Linked DNA regions of Homo sapiens: region 2 is linked to region 1. The links come from fine-mapping of genetic effects on gene expression. Tissue or cell type: whole blood. Region 1 holds a variant in brackets; the other region holds the start of a gene. All regions are shown on one strand. Distances are between the middles of the regions.

Evidence for each region. PIP is the estimated chance that this variant, and not a neighbour inherited with it, causes the effect.
Region 2: ANAPC7 starts here. The variant in region 1 is fine-mapped to the expression of ANAPC7 in whole blood (TOPMed, PIP 0.91).

What each region holds. Positions count from the first base shown.
Region 1 is chr12:110,552,133-110,560,241 of GRCh38, forward strand. The region is part of intron 1 of PPTC7 (protein phosphatase targeting COQ7); the gene reads right to left. Among named protein-coding and RNA genes, the nearest start is that of PPTC7, 27 kb to the right of the region's middle. The variant T/C (reference allele first, on the strand shown) is at 4,131.
Region 2 is chr12:110,399,510-110,407,618 of GRCh38, forward strand. ANAPC7 (anaphase promoting complex subunit 7) reads right to left here and starts at 4,199. Exons shown (of 11, transcript NM_016238.3): 1 at 4,018-4,199. The coding sequence starts at 4,118.

The DNA of each region.
Region 1 (8,109 bases):
ACTCCTAAGCCACATTCACTACTTAGAATTTGGCCTTTCATATATTGATGAATAAACTTTTGAGCTACCACAGGGTGGCATTGCCTACCAGCCAAGAGTTCAATTTCAGCAGGATTAGCATCTGTGTATAGACATATTTGTGTCATTAATACTTTGTCTTTTATAAGAATGAAAATTGATTTTTAAGCAAAGTGCTGATGCTAGTGACGATACAATTCAGTCAGAGCTGGAGATCACAAAGAACATCAAAAGCGGCAACCTTTTAACTCCAAACATTGGTCAATCGCTGGGAAATAAAGAACAAAACTGAGAACATATCCCATCCCCTCTCCTTCTACCCTGTAGAGGGCGGTACTGTACAATACAACAGCCATTCCTTACATGGTTACTGAGCACCCGAAATGAGGGAAGCCCAACTTGAGACATGCTCTAAGTATAAAACATACAGTGGGCCGGGCGCGGTGGCTCACGCCTGTAATCCCAGCACTCTGGGAGGCCGAGGCGGGCGGATCACGAGGTCAGGAGATCGAGACTGTCCTGGCTAACTCAGTGAAACCCCGTCTCTACTAAAAATACAAAAAATTAGCCAGGCGTGGTGGCAGGCGCCTGTAGTCCCAGCTACTTGGGAGGCTGAGGGAGGAGATTGGTGTGAACCCGCGAGGCAGAGCTTGCAGTGAGCCAAGATCGTGCCACTTCACTCCAGCCTGGGCAATGGGGCGAGACTCCGTCTCAAAAAAACAAACAAACAAACAAAACCACACACAGTGGATTTTGAAAACTTAGTATGAAAAAAAGTAAAATCTCTTTGGGAGGCTGAGGCAGGTAGATCACCTGAGGTCAGGAGATCGAGACCAGCCTGACCAACATGGTGAAACCCCGTTTCTACTAAAAATACAAAAAATTAGATGGGTGTGGTGGCAGGCAACTGAAATCCCAGCTACTCAGGAGGCTGAGGCTGGAGAATTGCTTGAACCTGGGAAGTGGAGGTTGCGGTGAGCCGAGATCGCGCCATTGCATCCCACCCTGGGCAACAAGAGTGAAACTCCATCGCTCTGTCACCAGGCTGGAGCAGTGGCGTGATCTCGGCTCACCGCAACCTCTCCGCCTCCTGGGTTCAAGGGATTCTCCTGCCTCAGCCTCCCGAGTAGCTGAGACTACAGGTGCGTGCCATCACGCCTGGCTTTTTTGTATTTTTAGTAGAGAAGGGGTTCACCGTGTTAGCCAGGATGGTCTCATCTCCTGACCTCATGATCTGCCAGCCTCGGCCTCCCAAAGTTCTGGGATTACAGGCATGAGCCACTGCGCCCGGCCCCCAAAATCTCTAATTTTTATATTCATTACTTACATACTGAAATTGTATTTTGGGCCAGGCATGGTGGCTCATGCCAATAATCCCAGCACGTTGGGAGGCCAAGGTGGGAGAATCACTTGGGCTCAGGAGTTCAAGACCTGCTTGGACAACACAGTGAGTCCCTGACTCTACTAAAAATAAAAAAATTAGCCAGGCATAGTGGTGTGCACCTGTAGTCCCAGCTACTCAGGAGGCTGAGGCGGGAGGACTGCTTGAGCCCCAGTGGTTGGGGCTACCGTGAGCCATGATTACGCCACTGCACTCCAGCGTGGGTGGATCAGCAAGACCTGGTCTCAAAAAATGAAACAGAAAAAGAATATTTTAGATATAATGCACCAAAGAGAATGCATTATCAAGACTGAGCTCACCTTTCTTTATTTACCTATTTTTTTTGAGACAGAGTCTCGCTCTGTCGCCCAGGCTGCTGGAGTACAGTGGCGTGATCTCAGCTCATGGCAACCTCTGCCTCCCAGGTTCAAGTGATTCTCCTGCTTCAGCCTCCCTAGCTGGGACTACAGGTGCTCGACACCACACCTGACTTGCATTTTTAGTAGAGACAGGGTTTTGCCATGTTGGCCAGGCTGGTCTCAAACTCCTGACTTCAAGTGATCTGCCCATCTCGGCCTCCCAAGGTGCTGGGATTATAAGCATCGGCCACTGCATCCGGCCAAATTTCACCTTTTAAAAAATTAACTATTATTATTTTTAGAGACAGTGGCTTGTTCTGTTGTCCAGGTTGGAGTGTAGTGTTACAATCACAGCTCATTGCAGTCTTGAACTCCCAGGCTTAAGTGATCCTCCTACCTCAGCCTCCTGAGTAGCAAGGACTACGGGGTCATGCCACCACACCCAGCTAGTTTTTGTTTGTCTGGCAATACAGAGTCAGGATCTCACTGTATTGCCCAGGCTTATTTTGAACTCCTGGGCTCAAGTGATCCTCCTGCCTCAGCCTCCCAAAATGCTTGGATTACAGGCGTGAGCCACCATGCCTGGCCTCTTTTTATTTTTAGTTAATATGAATATTAGGAAATTTAAAATTACATATGTGGCTCACATTATATTTCTACTGGATAGTACTAGTATAGAGATTTTCGTAGGCCCAAAGAGTTGCTGATGAGTTCAGAGTCTGCTTAGAGCTCCTTTATCAAGAGGAAATTAGTGTTTATGAAAGTCAATAAAATATCAAAGCCATCATACAATCTTCTACTCAAACTCTTGCAAAACACCAAGCTATTCTTTCCAACACTAAAACCAATTTCTATCTACTAAATTCAAAGACACTGAGAGAAAATGTCAAAAATATACATTATTAAGGCTTTAAATGGCCTTTCTGGAAGGATCCATAAGAAATATTAGCAATGGTTGCTTTAGAAATAAGGAACTGAAAACGATCCATGAACAAAATGGGAATTTTTGCCTTTTACTTCATACCATTCTGTATTAATTTTATTTTTATCATGAGCATGTATCATATGATTTTTTAAAACAGGGATTTTTTAATTTTTAAAACTTTCTGAGCATGAAACATCCTTCCCATACACACATTTATTTTTTGTACATTCAACTTTAAGAATGTATTTGGTACAAAAGTAGCAGAGTGCCTATATATACATCCCTGAAAAATTGGCTTAACATGAATTGGACATGTGAAACTATTTCTCTGGGGATGGCAGTTAACAAAAAGAAAGGGAACACATCGTGAAAAAGTAAGAGGAAACAGAATTGGAAGACATAAAGAAGGCAACAAATAGTGTATCACCACTGGGACAGCAACTTTCCCCACCTATGTGACCAACCAATAAACCAAATTTCATGACAGGGCAATTCCAAATTAGCTAATTAAAGTAATAAAAACTCTGGGATTCGTTTCAAAATATTTAAGGGGTTGAAGGGGGAGTGACAGAAGCACAGATGAAAGAAGACTGGCCATGAATGGATCGTTGTTGAAGCTGAATAAGAAGAACACCCATCTCTCTACTTTGATATATATTTGAAATTTTCCATAACACAACATTTAAATAATAACAATGATAACAAGTTTAAAAAGAAAAAAGACCCTTTTGCCTGCTGTGTGGAGAGCAAGAGCGGAAGGAGTTTAAGTAAGAGATCCATTTCATAGTCCACTCGCAATCTGCTGGCAGTGTGGTTAGAGGCGTGCAGACATTTGGTATCCATGAAACAGAACACGTGGATTGAGGGGTGAGGGAAAGAGAAGCAACCGGGCTAACTAGGGATCTATCTTACAAGGAACAGCACATTTCATTGTTTTTCAAGGAGTTGTGAAGAGGTTTGGGAAACTTATATTAAAAGAATTTAAGATCATTTCAATAGGAACTTCTTTGGAGAAACTCTTATTTTACTAGGAGTAAGATTTCACCATAATTTAAAACACAACAATTTATGTTAAAACACAGAATATAATTATAAGCCTTGCAACACTATCTGATGAATCATTCATTCTTTTCAAACCACTGCCTGCTTCAGGGAAGAATTTCTTCTTAAGTAGTCTCTGGTACAACTACAATTAACTTTAAATACAAATTGGTTTCATCTGCAAATGCTCTTCACAAGAAAACCATTAAAATCTAAGATAACGTTTAGAGTTGATCCTCGATCCTCGCACTCACTAAATAATCTGTCAGCAGGTTGAGTCTGACCTGACACAGCCCTTCAACATTAATCAGATTTCTCCCAGAATACAGCACAACCTTTTGGGCACCTGTTTGCTTTTTTACACGGGCAAAGGATGCCAAGCAAAACACCACTGACCAAATCTCTT[T/C]AGGGGAGAGAGAAATTCAAAAAGCATATAAACTCTTCAATAAAGCTGCAGGGAAAAAAGCCTTAATACAGTGCATATATATAACTAAATTATATAAGGGGAAGAGTTGTATTTGGGATGAGAATCAGACTAAAACTAGAATAACCTACTACACGTACATATGAAACCTAATTTTATTCATATTAGGTGGTTGTTTCTACACAGAAATTAATATGTCCTCTATTGCATAAGCAAAAGCTTCAGACTGCAAAGAGCAAGAATACCCTTTAAACAGTGGAACTGATCCAGATATAAAGGGAAATTTCATTCAGAATACATGTCAAAGGTAAAGAAAACTGTTAAAGGAGAAATTGCTTAAGATCCCAAAGATGTCAGGAACACAACTATCAAACAGCAAAGGATAAGAATAAGAATACCCTAAGAGCAAATGGAGGCCACACGTGGACCACCACATTGTGCATGCTGCGCTAGGAAATAAGACGGCTGAGAAAGCCGGTCTCTGAGAAGCTCCCCTGCTAGTGGGGTGCTAGACTTCTCACAGAGAAACCAGACAAACGGCTCCCATAAACACTGCTGCAGGAGGGTCAACAGCCAGTGGTTAGTGCTTACGGACACCACGAGAATGCAGCGCCTCAAGAACAGTGCCAGCCTGCTCTGAAAGTGGCATTCGGATAGGCCCTGGCAGGGGTCAGCCAGATTTCCACGGCAGGGAAGGATAACAAGAGGAAAAGAAAGGCAGACAACTAGATGCTGGGGCTTGGGTGAGCAGGGAGAAGCTGAAAAATGAAGGGCAGTAGCGAAAGTTGTAGAAAATCAAGAATGCCAGTTCAAGAACTCTAAAGTTCTTTATGCTACTGACCTGTGCTGTCTAACATGGGAGCCACTAGCCACATGTGGCTATTGAGTCTAAAATCTCACTTGTTTGGATTGAGAAGTGCTTGCTATGAAGTGTAAAATACATTCTGGATTCCAAAAACTTAGTACCAACAAAAGAAAAACTAAAATGACTTAGTAGTAGTTTTGTTTTCTTTTAAGAGATGGGGTCTCACTCTAGCCCAGGCTGGAGTAGTGGCCTGATCATAGCTCACTGCAGTCTTGAACTCCTGGGCTCAAGTATTCCTCCCACCTCAGCCTCCTTAGTAGCTGGGATTACAGACACACCCTGATACACCCCGCTACTTTTTTTTTTAAGTTTTTGTAGAAACAGGGTCTCACTATGTTGTCCAGGCTGGTCTCAAACTTCTGGGCTCAAGCAATCTCACACCTTGGCCTCCCAAAGTGCCGAGATTATGGGCATGAGCCACAGGATCTGGCCAAGTTTAACACATATATTAGGCATACTCAAGAGGTTAACAACGATAATAAAACAGAATAATTATAACAATATACTATAATAAATGTTGTGTGAATGTGGTCTCTGTCTGTATTATTGTTAGGTAATGTGGGTATATTAGTCCATTCTCATGCTGCTATGAAGAAATACCTGAGACTAGGTAATTTATAAAAGACGGAGGTTTAATTGAGTCACAGTTCTGCATGGCTGGGGAGGCCTCAGGAAACTTACAATCATGGCAGAAGGGGAAGCAAACACATCCTTCTTCACATGGCAGCAGGAGAGAGAAGTGCTGAGCAAAGGGGGAAAAGCCCCTTATAAAACCATCAGATCTTATGAAAACTTCACTATCACAATAGCAGCATGAGGGTTTATGGGGATTATTATGGGAACTACAATTCAAGATGAAATTTGAGTGGGGACAATGCCAAAACACATCAGTGGGTAATTGAAACCTCAAATAAGAGGGAACTACTGTTTCTGGATTTGGGGAATTAGAAAATATTGATTAGATTATTCTACAGTTGGCAAGGGTGTGTAAATGCCTTTAAAAGACATTTAATTCTGTCTTGGGTATGTCAAACTTCAGGTGCCAGCAGGGCATCTTTGTGGAAGTGTTGTGTATAAAGTGAGGAACTATGAGTTTGCGGCTGGCAAGGCAAGTTGGGGCCAGAAAATCTGAGAATTGATACCTTAGTGGTAGGGTATCCAGTTTGTCAGAATGATATAATCTCTATGGAGGTAGAGAGAAGTGAAGCTAAAAAGGAGGCTGAATTAATGACTAGAAGGGCCTTGAATGCCAAGATAAAGAGGTTGCACCGAATATAGAAGCTATTTCCTTTAATTCACTGTAATCATCTTATGTCTCCATTAATAACATTCTGTGAGCACACATCTAGCTTAAGTGTTTCCCTTGACCCAAAATCCAATTAAAATCACTATTAGATTAAGATAATGGTTACATATCAGAAATAGCTGAGCAAAAGATTGAGAAGAGACCATAGGGCACAGAAAAATCCTTTAGTGTTTTTGTTTGTTTTTGTTTTTTGAGACGGAGTCTCGCTCTGTCGCCCAGGCTGGAGTGCAGTGGTGCGATATTGGCTCACTGCAACCTCCGCTTCCCAGGTTCAAGTGATTCTCCCGCCTCAGCCCCCCAAGTAGCTACCACGCTCCGCTAATTTTTTGTATTTTTAGTAGAGACGGGGTTTCACCGTGTTGGCCAGGATGTTCTCAAACTCTTGACTTCATGATCCGCCCGCCTCGGCCTCCCAAAGTGCTGGGATTACAGGTGTGAACCACCGTGCCCAGGCTAGTTTTATCTTTTCAATGGAAATGTCAGTTTTATGAAGCAAAACGAGCAATTAGAAAATAGTTACAGTATTTATGTTTTTACAAAGTATTTTATTAAGTTTTCCATAGACTGATGCTTTTTCCCTTTTTCTTTTTTTAACAGCATCCTGCTCTGTCACCCAGGCTGGAGTGCAGTGGTGCAAACACAGCTCACTGCAACTTTGAACTCCTGGGCTCAAGGGATCCTCCCACTTCAGCCTCCAGAGTAGCTATGACTACAGGAATGCACCAACACACACAACTCATTTTTTTAAAAATTTTTTTTGTAGAGATGCGGTCTCATTATGTTGCCCAGGCTGGTCTCAAACTCCTGGGGTCAAGTGATCCTCCTGCCTCAGTCTCCCAAAGTGCTGGGATTACAAGCACAAATCACCATGCCTGGTTTCTACAGTTAAGAGTTAAAAAGGGAAGCAAAAAGAGTAATTCTGGGTGTCTGCCATCATTAAGTGTTTATAAGAAGAAAAAAATTTTTTTTTTTTTTTAAGAAATGGGGTCTCGGGCCCAGCGTGGTGGTTCACGCCTGTAATCCCAGCACTTTGGGAGGCCGAGGTGGGCAGATCACTTGAGGTCAGGATTTCAAGACCAGCCTGTCCAACATGGTGAAACCCCGTCTCTACTAAAAATACAAAAATTAGCTGGGTGTGGTGGTGCGTGCCTGTAATCCCAGCTTCTTGGGATGCTGAGGCAGGAGAATCACTTGAACCTGGGAGGTGGAGGTTGCAATGAGCCAAGATTGCATCACTGCACCCCAGCCTGGGCGACAGAGCAAGACTCAGCCTCAGGGGAAAAAAAAAAAAAAAAAAAAGAAATGGGGTCTCACTCTGTCACCCAGACTGGAATGCAGTGGTGTAGTAATAGCTCACTGCGGCCTCAAACTCCTGAGCTCAAGAGATTCTCCCATTTCAGCCTCCTGAATATCTGGGACTACAGGCATGTGCCACCATACCCAGCTATTTATTTTTTGTAGGGATGGGTCCTCGCCATGTTGCCCAGGGTGGTCTTGAACTCCTAGGCTGAAGTGATCCTCCTGCTTCGGCCTCCCAAAATGCTAGAATTACAGGAATGGGCCACTGAGCCCAGCCAAGAAGAAAATTCTTAAGCAATTTTCATTTTTCTAATTAACATGTTTTTGTCTTTGCCAAAATGGTATAACCATGTAAAATGGTAGTTATGACCAGGCGTGGTAGCTCATACCTGTAATCCCAGCATATTGGGAGGCTGAGGTAGGAGGATTGTTTGAGCCAAGGAATTCGAGACCAGCCTAGGCAACATAGCAAAACCCGTCTCTACAAAAAA
Region 2 (8,109 bases), 150 kb before region 1:
GGGACAATTGGAGAGTGATTACTAATAGACACGGTTTCTTTTTGTTGGGATAATGAAAACCTTCTGGAGTTAGATCATGGTGATGATCATACAATTTTGTAAATACACTAAAACCCACAGAATTGCATTATTGTGGCCATGTGCGGTGGCTTATGCCTATAATCCTAGCTACTTAGAGGCTGAGGCAGGAGAATCGCTTGAACCTGGGAGGTGGAGGTTGCAGTGAGCCAAGATCCCACCACTGCACTCCAGCCTGGGTGACGAGAGAGAGACTCTGTCTCAGACAAAAAAAAAAAAAAAAAGGGGCCAGGCGCGGTGGCTCACGCCTGTAATCACAGCACTTTGGGAGGCCAAGGAGGGAGGATCACCTGAGGTCAGGAGTTCGACCAGCCTGGCCAACATGTTGAAACCTCGTCTCTACTAAAAATACGAAAATTAGCCAGGCATGGTGGTGGGCGCCTGTAATCCCAGCTACTTGGAAGGCTGAGGGAGAACTGCTTGAACCCAGCAGGCGGAGGTTGCAGTGAGCCGAGATCACGCCACTGCACTCCAGCCCTGGCGACAGAGTGAGACTCAGTCTCCCCAGAAAAACAGAAAAAAAACAACAAAAAGAGTATAGTCTAGATGACTTAAGTTCTCTTCAAACTCTGTGATTCTATGTATGTAGTGAGAAATAACCATTTGATGCTTAGATACAAAAGTATTATTACATCCACAGAAAGCATTCAGATATGCATATAAGATACATGTCTACTTACACATGCATTAAGTTATCTCTGTAATGACACACGAAAAAATAGTTATTGCCTCTGGAGAAAGGAAATGTTGGGGTGAGGTTCAAGACTCAGGTAAAGATACTGATCTGCATGCCCCTTCTCCACTGTTTGAATTTAACAGTGTCTATTCCTATTCCACAAGAAATTTTAAAGTATAAATCATGAAGGTCAGAACTTAAACATGTCCTGAAGCTAGGAAACTGCCAATCTAACCCAATATGAAAAAGCATGGGCTAAACTTCGTCTAGCCAGAGAATTAAACTGTTTCAAACTATCCTGTAACATCTTTAAGAACTAAGAGTAACTAGGGCCTAAATCTCCAAACGTGGAAACTGTATGCTTTGGCAAATCACTCAGAACCAAGTGAAAGGCTCCAGCATAAACACATAAGGCTGACAGAGACCAGGGCTCCTGTCAACATGAAGTGGATGGTGGCAAAATGTGGGTCTCACTAGTAAGGTCCAAAGCACATTAATGAGGCTGGGCTCGGTGGCTCACGCCTGCAATCCAAGCACTTTGGGAGGCCTAAGTCATGGGGATCACTTGAGGTCAGGAGTTCCAGACAAGCCTGGCCAACATGATGAAACCCCATCTCTATTAAAAAAAAAAAAAAAATTAGCTGGGCGTGGTGGTGCGAATCTGTAATCCCTGCTACTCAGGAGGCTGAGGTGGGAGGATCGATTGAGCCTGGGAGGTGGAGGCTGTAGTCAGCCGAGATCGCACCACTGCACTCCAGCCTGGGCAACAAAGCAAGACTCCGTCTGAAAAGCAAAACAAAACAAAACACCAAAGTGCACTAATGAAAATCCAATGGGCAGCAGCAGCTGCATTGTAAGCACTTAAAGGACTTTTCCCTTCTGACCTAGACCAGCTTCTACAGCAGGCCAAACACTAATACATCTACAGAGTAAAAGTTTCCATTATAACGCCATTTGGAGGTAGCAGACTGGTGGCTCAGAATGGAGACTCTCCAGTCAGAGAAGACCAGGTCCAGGCATCGTACTCCTCCATTTATTGGATGTGTGAACTTGGACAAGGGTATTTCACCTCCCTGAGGTTGTACTCACTTCCTCAACACACTCAATAAGCATGTGAGTGCTTATTGCGCACAGCCACTGCGCTTTCAATTGGTGGGTGATGCGAAGGGTAGAAAAGTGGGAGTACCCGAGAGTCCTGGGAGTCAGAGAAGGCTCTTTAGGAGAGATATCCAGGCTAAAACCTGAAGGAGGAGGCAACGCTGAGATGAGGACCGTCGCAGGAGGAACAGCAAGTACAAGGGCCCAGAGTAGAGAACACGCTTGGTGCATTCAAATAACACAAAGAGGCCAGAAGCGATGGTTCACGCCTGTAATCCTTAAACTTTGGGAGGCCGAGGCGGCGGGATCACCAGAGGTCAGGAGTTGAAGACCAGACTGGTCGGCTGGGCGCGGTGGCTCACACCTGTAATCCCAGCACTTTGGGAGGCCGAGGCGGGCGGATCACGAGGTCAGGAGATCGAGACCATCGTGAAACCCTGTCTCTACTAAAAATACAAAAAAATTAGCTGGGTGCGGTGGCGGGCGCCTGTAGTCCCAGCTACTCGGGAGGCTGAGGCAGGATAATGGCGTGAACCCAGAAGGCGAAGCTTGCAGTGAGCCAAGATCGTGCAGAGCGAGACTCCGTCTCAAAAAAAAAAAAAAAAAAAAAAAAAGACCAGACTGGTCAATATAGTGAAACTCTGTTTCTACTAAAATAACAAAAATTAGCTGGGCGTGTGGCGCTCGCCTGTAATCCCAGCTACTTGGTTGGCTGAGGCAGGAGGATCGCTTGAACCCAGGAAGCGGAGGCTGCAGTGAGCCAAGACTGCGCCACTCAACTCCAGCATGGGCGACAGAGCGAGGCTGTCTCAAAAAAATAAAAATAAATAAACAAATAAAAACAAATAACAGAATAGCCAGGGAGGCTAGAGAGCAGTGAACAGAGTAATGAGATGAAGTCGCAGAGAGTGGAGGGCAGATATTTGCCTTCAGAGGCCATGGGAAAGAATTTTCATAAGTGCAATAAAGGATTTTTTTTTTTTTTTGAGACGGAGTCTCGCTCTGTCGTCCAGGCTGGAGTGCAGTGGTGCTACTTCGGCTCACTGCAAGCTCCGCCTCCCGGGTTCACGTTATTCTTCTGCCTCAGCCTCCCGAGTAGCTGGGACTACAGGCGCCCGCCACCACGCCTGGCTAAATTTTTTTGGTATTTTTTAAGCAGAGACGGGGTTACACTGTGTTAGCCAGGATGATCTCGATCTCCTGACCTCGTGATCCGCCCGCCTCGGCCTCCCAAAGTGCTGGGATTACAGGCATGAGCCACTACGCCCGGCCAATAAAGGATATTAAGCAGGAGAGGGACATGCACTCAAGGATGGAATCAGCTCAGTGCTTCAAGGAAACATGAAAGGCGCCACGCCCACCCATTAATGGAGTCTCCCGTTTCCTTTTTTTGAGACAGGCAGTCGTTCTGTCGCCCACGGTAAAGGACAATGATGCGATCACGGCTCACTGCAGCCTCGACCTCCTGGGTTCAAGCGATCCTCCTGCCTCAGCCTCCCGAGTAGCTGGGACCGCAGGCACGCACCATCACGCCCGGCTAATTGTTTAATTTTTACTTTTCGTAGAGGCAGGGTCTCCCTATGTTGCCCAGGTTGGTCTTGAACTCCTGGGCTCAAGCGATCCTCCCGCCTCGGCCTCCCAAAGGGCTCGTATTAGAGGCGTGAGCCACCGCGCCCGGCCCCGTTTTCAGGGGTTTCCCAAGGCCAGAAAGTGGACCCTCCTGATACACTTAACGGGGGGACCAATCTCAGATGCGGGGGCTAGCGCATAAAAACCAGGAGGCTGGGTCCCTGAGCTGCAGCGAGAGAAAAAAACGTTCTTCTGGAAGGAGCCGAGAGGGAAGGATTCAGCCTAGCGATGTGACAGTCGCGCTGCCCCGCGACAGGTGCCTCAGGAAACCCTCGCCTGGGTCGTCCTCAGAGCCTCTGCCTTCTATGTCTCCAAGCCGCCGCTCGCCACATCCCCGCGGGACTTGACGCCGGCACCCAGTGAACCCAACTTGCGCTCCGAAGTCTGCTCCGCTCCAGGACGCCCTCGCAGACCCCGGAGCCTCCGCTGGCGCCGGCGGCCGCTCCTTCCCGCCTGTTCCCACGTGCCCTGAGCCCCCGCTCCCAGACCGCCGCCGCTTTCTCCTCAGCCCCAGGCAGCTACCCGCCTCAACTCACGGGTTGTTATTACTCATTGTAAGTAACAAGCTGCTGAGGAGCCGCACGTTGGAGTGCAGCCCCGCGGCCGCCATGTCCCGCACGTGGTCTATCACATTCATCCTGCTCTGCAAAGCCGCGGGCAGCGGCGGCAGCACTGACTCGAAAAGCCGGTAGAGGATCCTTAGGGAAGACTCCAAAATGGCGGCGTCGCCGGGGTCCATCGGGTCCACACGCGGCACCACCCCCAAGCAAGAGGTAACTACTGAAGTGCCCGAATAAAAAGAAACTCGAGTCCCTGCTCCTGTCGTGGTCCTTTTCAGGTGAAATGAGTTGTTATTTTTACGCAAAAATCACGTTATCATCCTAAACTGCAAACTTTACTGAGGATTTACAATGAGACAAAAGGCACCTTATAAGACTACTCGGTCAATTTGAATGAGTCTGAGAGGAATTTGTGCCTCTCAGAAATTAAAATGTGTGGGTATTTACCGAAATAAAATACAGTAAGGTGAGGAAAAACGCTCCAACTGGAATTAAATATTCTAATCGGGCGCCAGGGACAGACCTAACGGCCTTTACAGTGGCGCATGCGCACCAGGCTAGGGCCGCCGCGCCCCTCCTCAGGTGTTTTGTGTTCCTGCCAAGTCAGGCTTCGGCCCTGGGGGAACTCCTTGGTTCGAGGGGTATATTTCCCCATGTAAAATTATTCCCTAGATCCGTGGAAATAAAGGCTGGATCCAGGAATTAGCTGATACCCATATAAACCAGTATGTGTCTGGCACACTTAACGTTTTAGGAAAGTTTTACACAAGTTATTGGGACGCTCACAACAATCCATAAAGTTGAAGTTGTCATTCCCTTCCCACAAGGGAAGAAACTGCCTGCTTAAATTTTGTGCTCAGGTTGTTAAATGGTTGACTTGGAATCAGATCGACTGGTTAATTATGTTGGATCGCAAACTCAAATGTATACAGGGACCAGGGAGGTAACTGAGCCAATGAGGCAGTTTAGGTCGTTGAGTCAGAGTCCGAATATTCTCCACAGTCATCCTCTCAGATCTAGCCTATCGCTCCTTTCTTAAAGGAGACAGTCGTTTTGGTCTAGATTTTGTTTTCATTTGATTTTTACAGTAGTAGATGCAAAAAAAATGCTCTGAAAAAATCACAGTGTATCTTCATCAGCAACTTTTTCAGCTCTTAACATTTTGTCACAGTTGAAGCTCCTGTAGATCCTTTTCCCATCTCATCCCCTACTCTAGTTTCCTGGATGTGTGAGACCTTCTATTTGATTTTGGTGGGCATCATCACTGTGAACTTTTCTTTTTTCTTTTTTTCGAGACGGAGTTTTGCTCTTGTCGCCCAGGCTGGAGTGCAAAATCTCAGCTCACTGCAACCTCTGTCACCCGGGTTCAAGGAATTCTCCCTGCCTCAGCTTCCCGAGTAGCTGGGATTACAGGCGCCTGCCACCACTGTCATGTGCGTCCGTGTGAAGAGACCACCAAACAGGCTTTGTGTGAGCAACAAGGCTGTTTGTTTCACCTGGGTGCAGGCAGGATGGTAGCAGCACGAGCCATAGGCAAAACTCCTCAGACACCAAGTTAAAGAAGGAAGGAGTATATTCGGCTGGGAGCATCAGCAAGGCTCCTGTCTCAAGAGCCGAGCTCCCCGAGTGAGCAATTCCTGTCCCTTTTAAGGGCTCACAATTCTAAGGGGGTCCGCGTGAGAGAGTCGTGATCGATTGAGTAAGCAGGGGGTACATGACATGCACCGGTGGTCAGAGTGAAACAGACCGGGAAGTTTCACAATGTCTTTCTATAATCTGTAGATAACATCAGTTGCTAGGTCAGGGGTCAGTTAAGGCAGGAACCGGCCCTTTTCACTTCTTTTGTGATTCTTCAGTTACTTCAGGCCATCTGGATGTACACATGCAGGCTTGGGTTCAGAGGCCTGACATTCCTGTCTTCTTACGTTAACAAGAAGAATAAAACGAAATAGTCGTAAAGTGTTGCGGCAGCGAAAATTTTTGGGGGTGGTATGGAGAGATAATGGGCGATGTTTTTCAGGGCTGCTTCAAGTGGGATTGGGGGTGGTGTGTGGGAACCTAGAGTGGGAGAGATTAAGCTGAAAGAAGATTTTGTGGTAAGGGACAATATTGTGGGGTTGTTAAAAGGAGCATTTGTCGTATAGAATGATTGGTGATGGCCTGGATGCAGTTTTGTATGAATTGAGAAACTAAATGAAAGACACAAGGTCTGAATTAAGAGAAGGAGAAAAACAGGTATTAAATAACTAAGAATTGGGAGGACCCAGGACATCCAATTAGAGAGTGCTCAAGGGGGTTCAGCATAATTACCTGCTTGGTTGGTGAGTTTTGGGGCTCTATCCTTGACAGAGTCCTTTTTAAGTTGGAGGCTGAGCTTGGTGAGGTGTGTTTTTAAAAGACCATTAGTCCATTCTACCTTTCCTGAAGATTGAGGACAATAATGGGTATGAAGTTTTCACTGAATACCAAGAGCCTGAGAAACTGCTTCGGTGATTTGACTAGTAAAGGCCGGTCCGTTATCGGACTGTATAGAGATGGGAAGGCCAAACCGAGGAATTATGTCTGACAGAAGGGAAGAAATGATTGCGGTGGCCTTCTCAGACCCTGTGGGAAAGGCCTCTACCCATCCAGTGAAAGTGTCTACCCAGACCAAGAGGTTTTTTTGTTTCCTGACTTGGGGCATGTGAGTAAGGTCAATTTGCCAGTCCTGGGCAGGGGCAAATCCCCGAGCTTGATGTGTAGGGAAGGGAGGGGGCCTGAACAATCCCTGAGGAGTAGTAGAATAGCAGATGGAACACTGAGAAGTGATTTCCTTGAGGATAGATTTCCTCAACGGAAAGGAAATGAGAGGTTCTAAGAGGAGGGCTAGCAGCTTGTAACCTACATGGAAGAGGTTATGAAATGACGACAGAATAGAATGGGCCTGTGAGGCTGGAAGAAGATATTTTCTTTGGTCCAAGAACCATTTGTCTTGTGTGGGAAGAGATTGATAGGTAGAAGTTTCAGTGGGGGAGTAGGTGAGAGTGACCAGATGAGAAGGAGAAAAATTGGCCGTGAGGGACAGAAGTTGGAAGGCTAAGCTGCTTCTTTAGCTACCTTGTCAGCGTAAGCGTTGCCCTGAGCGATGGGATCTGATGCCTTTTGATGGCCCTTGCAGTGAATGACTCCAGCTTCCTTTGGAAGTAAAGCGGCCTTGAAAAGAGTTTTTATTAAAGAGGCATTCATGATAGAGGACCCTTGAGTAGTAAGGAAACCTCTTTCAGCCCATATAACAGCATGGTGGTGTAGGATATGGAAGGCATATTTAGAGTCAGTATAAATATTGATGCGTAGTCCCTTTGCAAGAGTGAGGGCCTGAGTTAAGGCAATTGGTTCGGCTTGCTGAGAGGTAGTGCAGGGGGTCAGAGCAGTAGCCTCAATGATAGATGTGGAAGATACTATAGCATAGCCTGCCTTTGCTGGTGAGTGGCAATTAGGCCTGGTGGAACTGCCATCAATAAACCAAGTGTGATCAGGGTGAGGAACAGGAAAGAAGGAAATATGGGGAAATGGAGTGAATGTCAGCTGGATCAGAGAGATACAGTGATGTGGGTCAGGTGTGGTATCCGGAATAATGTGGGGGCTAGCCTAAAACAGTGAGGTCAAGTTGTTTGGACAGAAAGGCTACAGGGTGCGGTCCCAGCTCTTGTGCAAGAATTTTGACCACACAGCCCTGTACTTTGGCTGTGTGTAATGAAAAGGGTTGGGATGAGTTAGGGAGAGCTAGTGTGGGAGCAGCTTCTAGGGCTGTTTTTAAGGAACAGAAAGAGGAGTGGTGAAAAAATTTAGGATCTATGGAGTCAGCTAGGTTTGCTTTTGTGAGTTTATGTAACGTTTTAGTCAGGATGGTAAAACTAGGTATCCAAAAGTGGAAGTACCTAACAATGCATAGGAAGGAAAGGAGTTGTTGTTTTGTAGAAGGGATTGGGGTTTGGGAGATTAGCTGGACACAATCAGCAGGGAGAGCATGTGTGTTTTCACAAAGAGTTATGCCAAGATAGGTAATGGATGAGGAAGAAATTTGGGCTT